Linked DNA regions of Homo sapiens: all the other regions are reported to be linked to region 1. Evidence: microRNA targets listed by miRTarBase, many of them from high-throughput screens and not tested one by one. Region 1 holds a microRNA gene; each other region holds the end of a gene's coding sequence.

Region 1 (3,344 bases):
CACAGTCTGTGGGTCACACGCGCGAGCGGTCACAGGGCTCAATCACTCGCCCACAATCTAGACATGAGGCTCTCCTTTCACATTTCAATCACACAAACGTGGGACGTTGCTTTTCCCAGAAGGGAGCACACGCAGAGAATACACTGAGGTGAAGGAACAGGCCCATAACACAAAGGAAAAAGCCGGCTAGATCAACGCCCGGTGACAGGCTCTTAGTCTAAAGACAAGAGCAGGTGGGGCTGTGTGGGAAGCACAGGTCTGGTGGGAGAGAAGCTGCTGGCATCAGGGTCACCCGTGGGCATTTGCCATTTCCCAGAAATAACTCCTCATCAGCTCCCTTTTTAGTTATTTATGGAGTCTTGCTTTGTTGCCCAGGCTGGAGTGCAGTGGCGCAATCTTGGCTCACTGCAACTTCTGCCTCCCGGGTTCAAGCCATTCTCCTGCCTCTGCCTCCCGAGTAGCTGGGACAACAGGCACGCGCCACCACACCCAGCTAATTTTTGTGTTTTTAGTAGAGACGGGGTTTCACCATCTTGGTCAGCCTGGTCTCGAACTCCTGACCTGAAGTGATCCACCCACCTCAGACTCCCAAAGTACTGGGATTACAGCCATAAGCCACCGTGCCTGGCCCCTTTTTATGCACTGTTTTGTGTTTTGTCTTTTGGAGACAGGATCTTGCTCTGCTGCCCAGCGTGGAGTGCAGTGGTGGTATCACAGCTCACTGCAGCCTCAAACACCTGGGCTCATGCAATCCTCCCACCCCAGCCTCCGGAGTGGCTGGGACTAAGGGCATGCGCCACCATGCATGGCTAAATTTTATTTTTAGTATAGACGAGGTCTCATGTTGGCCAGGCTGCTGCCAAACCCCTGACCTCAAGTGATCCACCTGCCTTGGCCTCCCAAAGTGCTGGGATCACAGGCGTGAGCCACCATGCCCGGCGAATGCACTATTATTTCTTATGGTTTTCTAAACCCGATTTGAACTTCTGCATTTTACATTCCCTTAGAATTCAGAGTTTTAGAAAAGACTTGTTTTCATCACTTTGGCTCATTTGGGACAATTTCAAGTCTGTGTTTTTATCAGTCTCTGGAAATTTATGAAAGCTGCAAATCGTCTCCAGTAGCTCTTTTATTCCCTTTAAACTTCTGCCATCTAGTTCCATGTTATAAAAAATATAACGTGTTTGGGCAGTGTTTAGGCCACAGCCACCCATGTGTAGCCACCCCTACACATGGGTGGCTGTGGCCTAAACACTGCCCACGAGAAAAGTTCTGAAGTGGGCCCTTCTGGCCCCACAGCCTGTCCGCAGGGGCTGTGGCCTCTAGGTCGGGCCTGGGGCTAGGAAGAGGGAAAGGTCAGTGCACGAGGCCACCCAGCTCCATGTCCATGCCCATGGCCCTTCTGCAGGGCATCCTCAGACTTGTTTTCAAGCCCATGTGTTAGAGATTTAGGAATGTGTCATTTTTCTCCTGTGACACCCTAAAAGAGGGTTGGGGAGAGCGTATAGGACTGAGGGCACAGCCCGCATGAGGCACACACGTGTGAGGCCAGCGTACACAGGACACGCACAGGAGATACCATCCTTCCCGGTAGCACGCTGCCAGCACCAGCAGGGGTCTTTAAGTAAGGACTGGCACAAGTAGAATGCCTTCTTAGGAAAATGATCCGCAGCTCAGGAGGCTGCTGCGTGGGGACCGGGAGGGGCAGGTGCATTCAGGGCGTCTGTGGCAGGGGCCCAGGGCTGCACCCAAGCCTGGAGCTTAGATGACCCCAGGAGCAGCAGGAAGGGCCCATCTGGCATCCCAGGGAAATCCTCAAGGCCTCTGGAAACTCAGTGCTGGAGCTGGGTCACCAGGGGTGCCCTAAGGAGCCTGGGACTGAAGCCTCAGGACCCTGCCCTGGCCGATTTTTGTCTGAGCTGTGGCAGTTCCCAGCCCACGGGAGGGCAGGGGAAAAGAGCCTTGGGCCCAGGGATAGGAGTGACCGGCCTATCCACGCTCCACCCTAGACCACGGAGGGGGGCCACACATTCTCTACGGACACTGTCCCCAAACAACTGTGGCATCTGACAGAGCCAACTCCTGCCCTGCTCCCAGTTCACCTTAGACCTGGGAAACGAGGTTTTGACTTCACTGCTCTGCATGGCCTGGTGCAGGGCTCCCGTGAGCAGACGGCCCATGGGCCACGAGCCAGGTATGTGGAAGAGCCTGTGCCTTCTGTCCTCCAGGCCGGCCCAGTCCAACGGCGTGGCTCAACTGAAACCACACCCAGAACTCGGAGAGGGGAAGACCTCGCGGTGGGGCGGGCCCAGGCCAAGCCCCTCCACTGCCATCACAGGTTTACAGCGGAGCAGAGGGGCAGGCCGGATACAGGCAGCCCAGGCCACAGGTCAGGGGACCCACACCAGGCCACAGGAACAGGCTTGCTGAGGGTATCAGAAAACCCCAGGTCACAGTGGTTTGAAAAAGAAGTTTATTTCTCAGCCATGTAGGCAGGAGGAGGCAGTCCAGCACTCGGTCACCTGAGGTCTCAGGGAGGCAGGCTCCATCTGCTGCCCCGTCATCCTGGTTCACGCCTCCCTCCTCATGGTCACCTCTGTGTTCAAGGAAGTGCTTGGCCGGGCATGGTGGCTCACGCCTGTAATCCCAGCACTTTGGGAGGCCGAGGCAGGCGGATCATGAAGTCGAAAAATCAAGACCATCCTGGCTAACACGGTGAAACCCCGTCTCTACTAAAAATACAAAAAAATTAGCCGGGTGTGGTGGCGGGCACCTGTAGTCCCAGCTACTCAGGAGGCTGAGGCAAGAGAATGGCGTGAACCGGGGAGGCGGAGCTTGCAGTGAGCCGAGATCACGCCATTGCACTCCATCTGGACTACAGTGAGACTCCATCTAAAAAAAAAAAAAAAAAGGAAGTGCTCAAGTTCAGGCCGGGGTAGGGTGTGTGCAGTGGCCTCCGTCAAGTGTGTGTCACCCCCAGGCAGCTCCCTGCTGCGCCTGGACCCAACTGTGCCCTTGGCTCACTCCATCTTGCTGGGTTTCCCATCTCTGTCTTACTGGCTGCTTTCAGAGACCAGGCCCAGAGTCCCCAGGACTCAGGTGACCTTGGCTACCCTGGAATCCTGGACTAAAGATCTGCAATAGAAATGTGTCCAGCAGGGAATGTAATGTGTCCAGCAGGGAACCATCCTGTTTGCTTTGCTTTTCTGAGTTCCTACAACCAACCGGCCAGGGCGCACTGTGGGGCACAGGGATGCAGGCCCTGGAGTATGGCCACTTCTGCCTGGGGGCGTCTGGGGGGTTTCCTGAGTGAGGTGGGGTCTCACCAGCTCCAGGAGACACCA
Region 2 (3,000 bases), not on the chromosome of region 1:
GGACTACAGGCGCCCGCCACCACGCCCGGCTAATGTTTTTGTATTTTTAGTAGAAATGGGGTTTCACCGTGTTAGCCAGGATGGTCTCAATCTCCTGACCTCGTGATCCACCCACCTCGGCCTCACAAAGTGCTGGGATTACAGGCGTGAGCCACCACGCCCGGCCTACAGCTCCTCTATTTTTAAAAATTTAATTTAAAAACATTTTTGGCTGGGCATGGTGGCTCACGCCTGTAATCCCAACACTTTGGGAAGCCAAGGCAGGAGGATGTCTTGAGTCCAGGAGTTCGAGACCAGCCTGGGCAACATGGCAAAACCCTACCTCTACAAAAAATACAAAAAAACTAGTGGGGAGTGGTGGCGCACACCTGTAGTCCCAGCTACCTGGGAGGCTGAGGTGGGAGGATTGTTTGCACCCAGGTCGAGGCTGCATTGAGCTGAGATCAGGCCATAGCATTCCATTCTGGATGACAGAGCAAGACAGTCTTGCTGTCTCCCAGGCTGGAGTGTAGTGGCGCAATCTCGGCTCACTGTAACCTCCACTTCCCGAGTTCAAGCAATTCTCCTGCCTCAGCCTCCCGAGTAGCTGGGATTACAAGCATATGCCACCACACTCGGCTAATTTTTGTATTTTTAGTAGAGATGGGGTTTCACCATGTTGGCCAGGCTGGTCTTGAGCTCCTGACCTTAAGTGATCCGCCTGCCTTGGCCTCCCAAAGTGCTGGGATTACAGGTGTGAGACACTATGCCCAGCCAAAAATTTTTAGAGACAGGGTCTCACTCTCCCCCAGGCAGGAGTGCAGTGGCACAATCATAACTCACTGTAACCTTAACTTCTTGGCTCAAGTAATCCTCCCACCTCAGCCTCCCAAGTAGCTGGGATTATAGGCTGGTGCCACCATGCTCAGGTAATTTTAAATTTTTTTGTAGAGGCAGGGTATCTCACTATGTTGCTTAGACTGGTCTTAAACTGTTGGCCTCAAGCAATCCTCCCACCTCAGCCTCCTAAAGTGCTGGGATTACAGGCCTGCAACTCCTTTAATACTCCCAAAAATCCCACACAGTATGTTCTACTACCCCATTTTACAGATAAGGAAACCGGAGTTCAGCAAGTTCAAGTGCCTTGCCCTTGTGTATTAGTCCATTTTCACGCTGCTGATAAAGACATACCCGAGACTGGGTAATTTATAAAAAGAGGTTTAATGCATTCGCATTTCCACATGGCTGAGGAGGCCTCACAATCATGGTGGAAGGCGAAAGGCCCGTCTTACATGGCAGCAGGCAAGAGAATCAGAGCCAAGCAAAAGGGGAAACCCCTTATAAAATCATCAGATCTCGTGAGACTTATTCACTATCACGAGAACAGTGTGGGGGAACCGCTCCCATGATTCAATTATCTCCCACCGAGTCCCTCCCACAACACATGGGCACTATGGGAGCTACAATTCAAAACGAGATTTGGGTGGGGACACAGCCAAACCATATCACCTTGGTTCCCATAGCTAGAATCAGTGGAGTAAGGATTCAAACCCACCAACTAAGCACTTTTATGAACTGAACTCATCAGAGTGGAACTGTGGCAGGAGGCTGTGACCCAGAGAGGTATGACTGCTTACCAAAAGATACTCAGTAATAGGCAGAATACACCAAGCTTGTCCAACCCGTGGCCTGCAGGCTGCACGCAGCCCAGGATGGCTTTGAATGAGGCCCAAACACAAATTCTTCAACTTTATTAAAACATTATGAGATTTTTGCACAAACCATTGTTTTTTGTTTTAGCTCATCAGCTATGGTTACTGTATTTTATGTGTGGCCCAAGACAATTCTTCCAACATGGCCCAGGGAAGCCAAAGGATTGGATACCCCTGAACTATACCCTAGGGTGGGGAGTGGCTAAGACCCCTAGGCCAGGGTCTTTCCCCCAGCTGAGGCCATAGTGCTTCCCCATGGCCAAGACAGTGAGGTATTTAAGAATGGAATTACTGGCTTAGAAGCCAAAGTTGACTGTAATATCTCCAACTCTGGCTCCTGTTTTGAAAACCAGAATTCTTTGGAAGTTAATGGAAAACTCAAAATAGCAGATTCTGCCTTTGGGGTGTTTGCAGAGGGCTTTGAAGTGGTCTCAAATTACTGACAAGTGAAGATCAGGTAGAGTTAACAAAGCAACCAATGTAGAAGCAGGTCTCAAGGGCAATTCACATTTATTTCCTGAGCATGCTGACTAAACATACTTCAAACACAGCAGAAGGTAAAGAGTCTGTTTTGTAAGTAAAGCCGTTTCTTGCCAACAGCGAATGGTGGTCCATGAAGAGTACCTTGAGCATCATCTTCAAGCTGAGGCTCCAGCTCTGGGCAAACAGCTGCTGGGTGGACCTGGTCCTTCTGGCCTGGATGGGGGCCTCCAAGGAACTACTTGTTCTCATACTTGTGCTTGATGTGTTTCCACAGCTTCTGCATTTTAAAGACAAGAGCCACAAACTTTGACCTTTGCCTCTCACATTTTACAACTACTCCCACTGCCCTGGTCTCTAAAATGAGCTTGGGGGAAACACATGCCATGTCCTGATTAAAAAGATACACTTGTGGTGGGCAAACTCGAAGCAATCCTATGCTTGATGCACATTTTTTTTTTGAGACGGAGACTCGCTCTATCGCCCAGGCTGGAGTGTAGTGGCGCAATCTCGGCTCACTGCAACCTCAGCCTCTTGGGTTCGAGCGATTCTCCTGCCTCAGCTTCAAGAGCAGCTGGGAATACAGGTATGCGCTACCCGGCTAATTTTTGTATTTTTAGTAGAGATGGGGTTTCGCCATGTTGGCCAAGCTGGTCTCAAACTCCTGACCTCAAGTGATCTGCCTGCCTTGGCCTCCCAAAGCGCTGGGATGACAGGTGTGAGCCACCGCGCCGAGCCTTCATGCATAATTCTTGGCATTTATAAAATACTATGATGCTTTCAATCACCAGGTGAAGTAAGTGGAAAGGGGTGATCTTAATTTCACAGG
Region 3 (3,344 bases), not on the chromosome of region 1:
CTTTGGGAGGCCGAGATGGGCAAGGTCAGGAGTTCAAGACCAGCCTGGCCAACATAGTGAAACCCTATCTCTACTAAAAATACAAAAATTAGCCGGGCATGGTGGCACGTGCCTATAATCCCAGCTACTCAGGAGGCTGAGGCAGGAGAATTGCTTGAACCTGGGAGGTGGAGGTTGCAGTAAGCCGAGATCACGCCACTGCACTCAGCTCGGGCAACAGAGTGAGACTTCGTCTCAAAAAGAAAAAGGAGTGGCCTTACCACTAGCCCTGTGGTCTTCAGTGACTTAAAATGCCAACGACCCACTTCTTATAACTGGGGTCATGAGGTCAACTTAAATAAGGCATCAGCTTGCCTGGCACAGGCAGTGGTGATGGTGAGGATGTCTGGTTGTAAGAGAACTGACAGTGGGGGAAAGAGGGGTTCATCCTTAGGTCCTGATGAGGAGCTCTCACCCCCGCCTCTTCTCTCTCCTCCTCTCCAGCTCTGATTGTGGGTGGCATCGTGGGCATCCTCTTTGCCGTCTTCCTGATCCTACTGCTCATGTACCGTATGAAGAAGAAGGATGAAGGCAGCTATGACCTGGGCAAGAAACCCATCTACAAGAAAGCCCCCACCAATGAGTTCTACGCGTGAAGCTTGCTTGTGGGCACTGGCTTGGACTTTAGCGGGGAGGGAAGCCAGGGGATTTTGAAGGGTGGACATTAGGGTAGGGTGAGGTCAACCTAATACTGACTTGTCAGTATCTCCAGCTCTGATTACCTTTGAAGTGTTCAGAAGAGACATTGTCTTCTACTGTTCTGCCAGGTTCTTCTTGAGCTTTGGGCCTCAGTTGCCCTGGCAGAAAAATGGATTCAACTTGGCCTTTCTGAAGGCAAGACTGGGATTGGATCACTTCTTAAACTTCCAGTTAAGAATCTAGGTCCGCCCTCAAGCCCATACTGACCATGCCTCATCCAGAGCTCCTCTGAAGCCAGGGGGCTAACGGATGTTGTGTGGAGTCCTGGCTGGAGGTCCTCCCCCAGTGGCCTTCCTCCCTTCCTTTCACAGCCGGTCTCTCTGCCAGGAAATGGGGGAAGGAACTAGAACCACCTGCACCTTGAGATGTTTCTGTAAATGGGTACTTGTGATCACACTACGGGAATCTCTGTGGTATATACCTGGGGCCATTCTAGGCTCTTTCAAGTGACTTTTGGAAATCAACCTTTTTTATTTGGGGGGGAGGATGGGGAAAAGAGCTGAGAGTTTATGCTGAAATGGATTTATAGAATATTTGTAAATCTATTTTTAGTGTTTGTTCGTTTTTTTAACTGTTCATTCCTTTGTGCAGAGTGTATATCTCTGCCTGGGCAAGAGTGTGGAGGTGCCGAGGTGTCTTCATTCTCTCGCACATTTCCACAGCACCTGCTAAGTTTGTATTTAATGGTTTTTGTTTTTGTTTTTGTTTGTTTCTTGAAAATGAGAGAAGAGCCGGAGAGATGATTTTTATTAATTTTTTTTTTTTTTTTTTTTTTTTACTATTTATAGCTTTAGATAGGGCCTCCCTTCCCCTCTTCTTTCTTTGTTCTCTTTCATTAAACCCCTTCCCCAGTTTTTTTTTTATACTTTAAACCCCGCTCCTCATGGCCTTGGCCCTTTCTGAAGCTGCTTCCTCTTATAAAATAGCTTTTGCCGAAACATAGTTTTTTTTTAGCAGATCCCAAAATATAATGAAGGGGATGGTGGGATATTTGTGTCTGTGTTCTTATAATATATTATTATTCTTCCTTGGTTCTAGAAAAATAGATAAATATATTTTTTTCAGGAAATAGTGTGGTGTTTCCAGTTTGATGTTGCTGGGTGGTTGAGTGAGTGAATTTTCATGTGGCTGGGTGGGTTTTTGCCTTTTTCTCTTGCCCTGTTCCTGGTGCCTTCTGATGGGGCTGGAATAGTTGAGGTGGATGGTTCTACCCTTTCTGCCTTCTGTTTGGGACCCAGCTGGTGTTCTTTGGTTTGCTTTCTTCAGGCTCTAGGGCTGTGCTATCCAATACAGTAACCACATGCGGCTGTTTAAAGTTAAGCCAATTAAAATCACATAAGATTAAAAATTCCTTCCTCAGTTGCACTAACCACGTTTCTAGAGGCGTCACTGTATGTAGTTCATGGCTACTGTACTGACAGCGAGAGCATGTCCATCTGTTGGACAGCACTATTCTAGAGAACTAAACTGGCTTAACGAGTCACAGCCTCAGCTGTGCTGGGACGACCCTTGTCTCCCTGGGTAGGGGGGGGGGAATGGGGGAGGGCTGATGAGGCCCCAGCTGGGGCCTGTTGTCTGGGACCCTCCCTCTCCTGAGAGGGGAGGCCTGGTGGCTTAGCCTGGGCAGGTCGTGTCTCCTCCTGACCCCAGTGGCTGCGGTGAGGGGAACCACCCTCCCTTGCTGCACCAGTGGCCATTAGCTCCCGTCACCACTGCAACCCAGGGTCCCAGCTGGCTGGGTCCTCTTCTGCCCCCAGTGCCCTTCCCCTTGGGCTGTGTTGGAGTGAGCACCTCCTCTGTAGGCACCTCTCACACTGTTGTCTGTTACTGATTTTTTTTGATAAAAAGATAATAAAACCTGGTACTTTCTAAACTGCTTGCCTCTGTCATTTTCGTTCATAACAAGTCATCCTTTTTGGGCTCTGTATCCCCTTGATCTCAGTGGAGCATGAAGAAACTCCCCGGACCAAATCCCCTACGGGGTGCCAGACATGCCGGGGGTGGGCAGAGGGTGGGGGCAGAGAGGTAAGAAGGCAGGAAGGGGCCTAGAGAAGAGGGAAGACTTCAGAACATGCACCCTGATGGCCTATGCAGCATATCACCCCTACTTCAAGGTTTTGTTTAGGTGGCACTGTGTTTAAATAGCAAACACAAAAATCTTTGCGTCAGTTGCCATCCATAGAAATCAGGAGGTTTCTCATAAAAATCCAGATTTCTCACTTTTCTTGGGAAAAAGAAATAAAAAAAATTGGCAACTGTCAGCCTGCATGGCAACAAGAGAGCTGCTGAGCGGCAGGCACCCATCTAGATGTGGGCTCTCCGCACCACTGTCTCCGCCTGCTTCACTCAGGCCACTGCTGCAGCCAGGCTGGCTGGCAGTCTCCGGAAATAGCATGGGCCATCTTTCTTGACCACTATAACAACCCTGTGAGGTGGGTAAGATCCTTGTTACCAAGAGGGCAACCTGCCCCTAGTGTGTCTGGAGAGTCGAACCTTAATTTCAGGTCCTTGGACATTGGTGATCTTCCTTTGGCACCATGTTGCCCAGTACTTTGCTGGGGTTGGGGAAAGGACGCAAACAGGAATTGGTGGTAGTTGGAGCAAAC

The links. The annotated mature microRNA hsa-miR-4717-5p reads UAGGCCACAGCCACCCAUGUGU and lies in region 1 at 1,229-1,250, opposite strand. An mRNA with a match to its seed (bases 2 to 7 or 8) in the 3' UTR can be bound and repressed. Matches are read on the target gene's strand: a 7mer-m8 pairs with bases 2 to 8, a 7mer-A1 pairs with bases 2 to 7 and ends in A, and an 8mer does both.
Region 2: miRTarBase lists UQCR10 as a target of hsa-miR-4717-5p. Seed matches in the 3' UTR shown: 7mer-A1 at 1,904-1,910.
Region 3: miRTarBase lists SDC4 as a target of hsa-miR-4717-5p. Seed matches in the 3' UTR shown: 7mer-m8 at 1,024-1,030.

Annotation. Positions count from the first base shown.
Region 1 is chr16:2,272,535-2,275,878 of GRCh38, reverse strand. It overlaps MIR4717 (microRNA 4717), which reads right to left and starts at 1,259; the gene lies at 1,188-1,259. It overlaps MIR3677HG (MIR3677 and MIR940 host gene), which reads right to left. Exons shown (of 3, transcript NR_132988.1): 3 at 2,807-2,892.
Region 2 is chr22:29,769,129-29,772,128 of GRCh38, reverse strand. It overlaps UQCR10 (ubiquinol-cytochrome c reductase, complex III subunit X), which reads right to left. Exons shown (of 2, transcript NM_013387.4): 2 at 1,716-2,451. The coding sequence ends at 2,410. Among named protein-coding and RNA genes, the nearest start is that of UQCR10, 3.3 kb to the right of the region's middle.
Region 3 is chr20:45,324,555-45,327,898 of GRCh38, reverse strand. SDC4 (syndecan 4) reads left to right here. Exons shown (of 5, transcript NM_002999.4): 5 at 484-2,611. The coding sequence ends at 635. Among named protein-coding and RNA genes, the nearest start is that of MATN4, 18 kb to the right of the region's middle.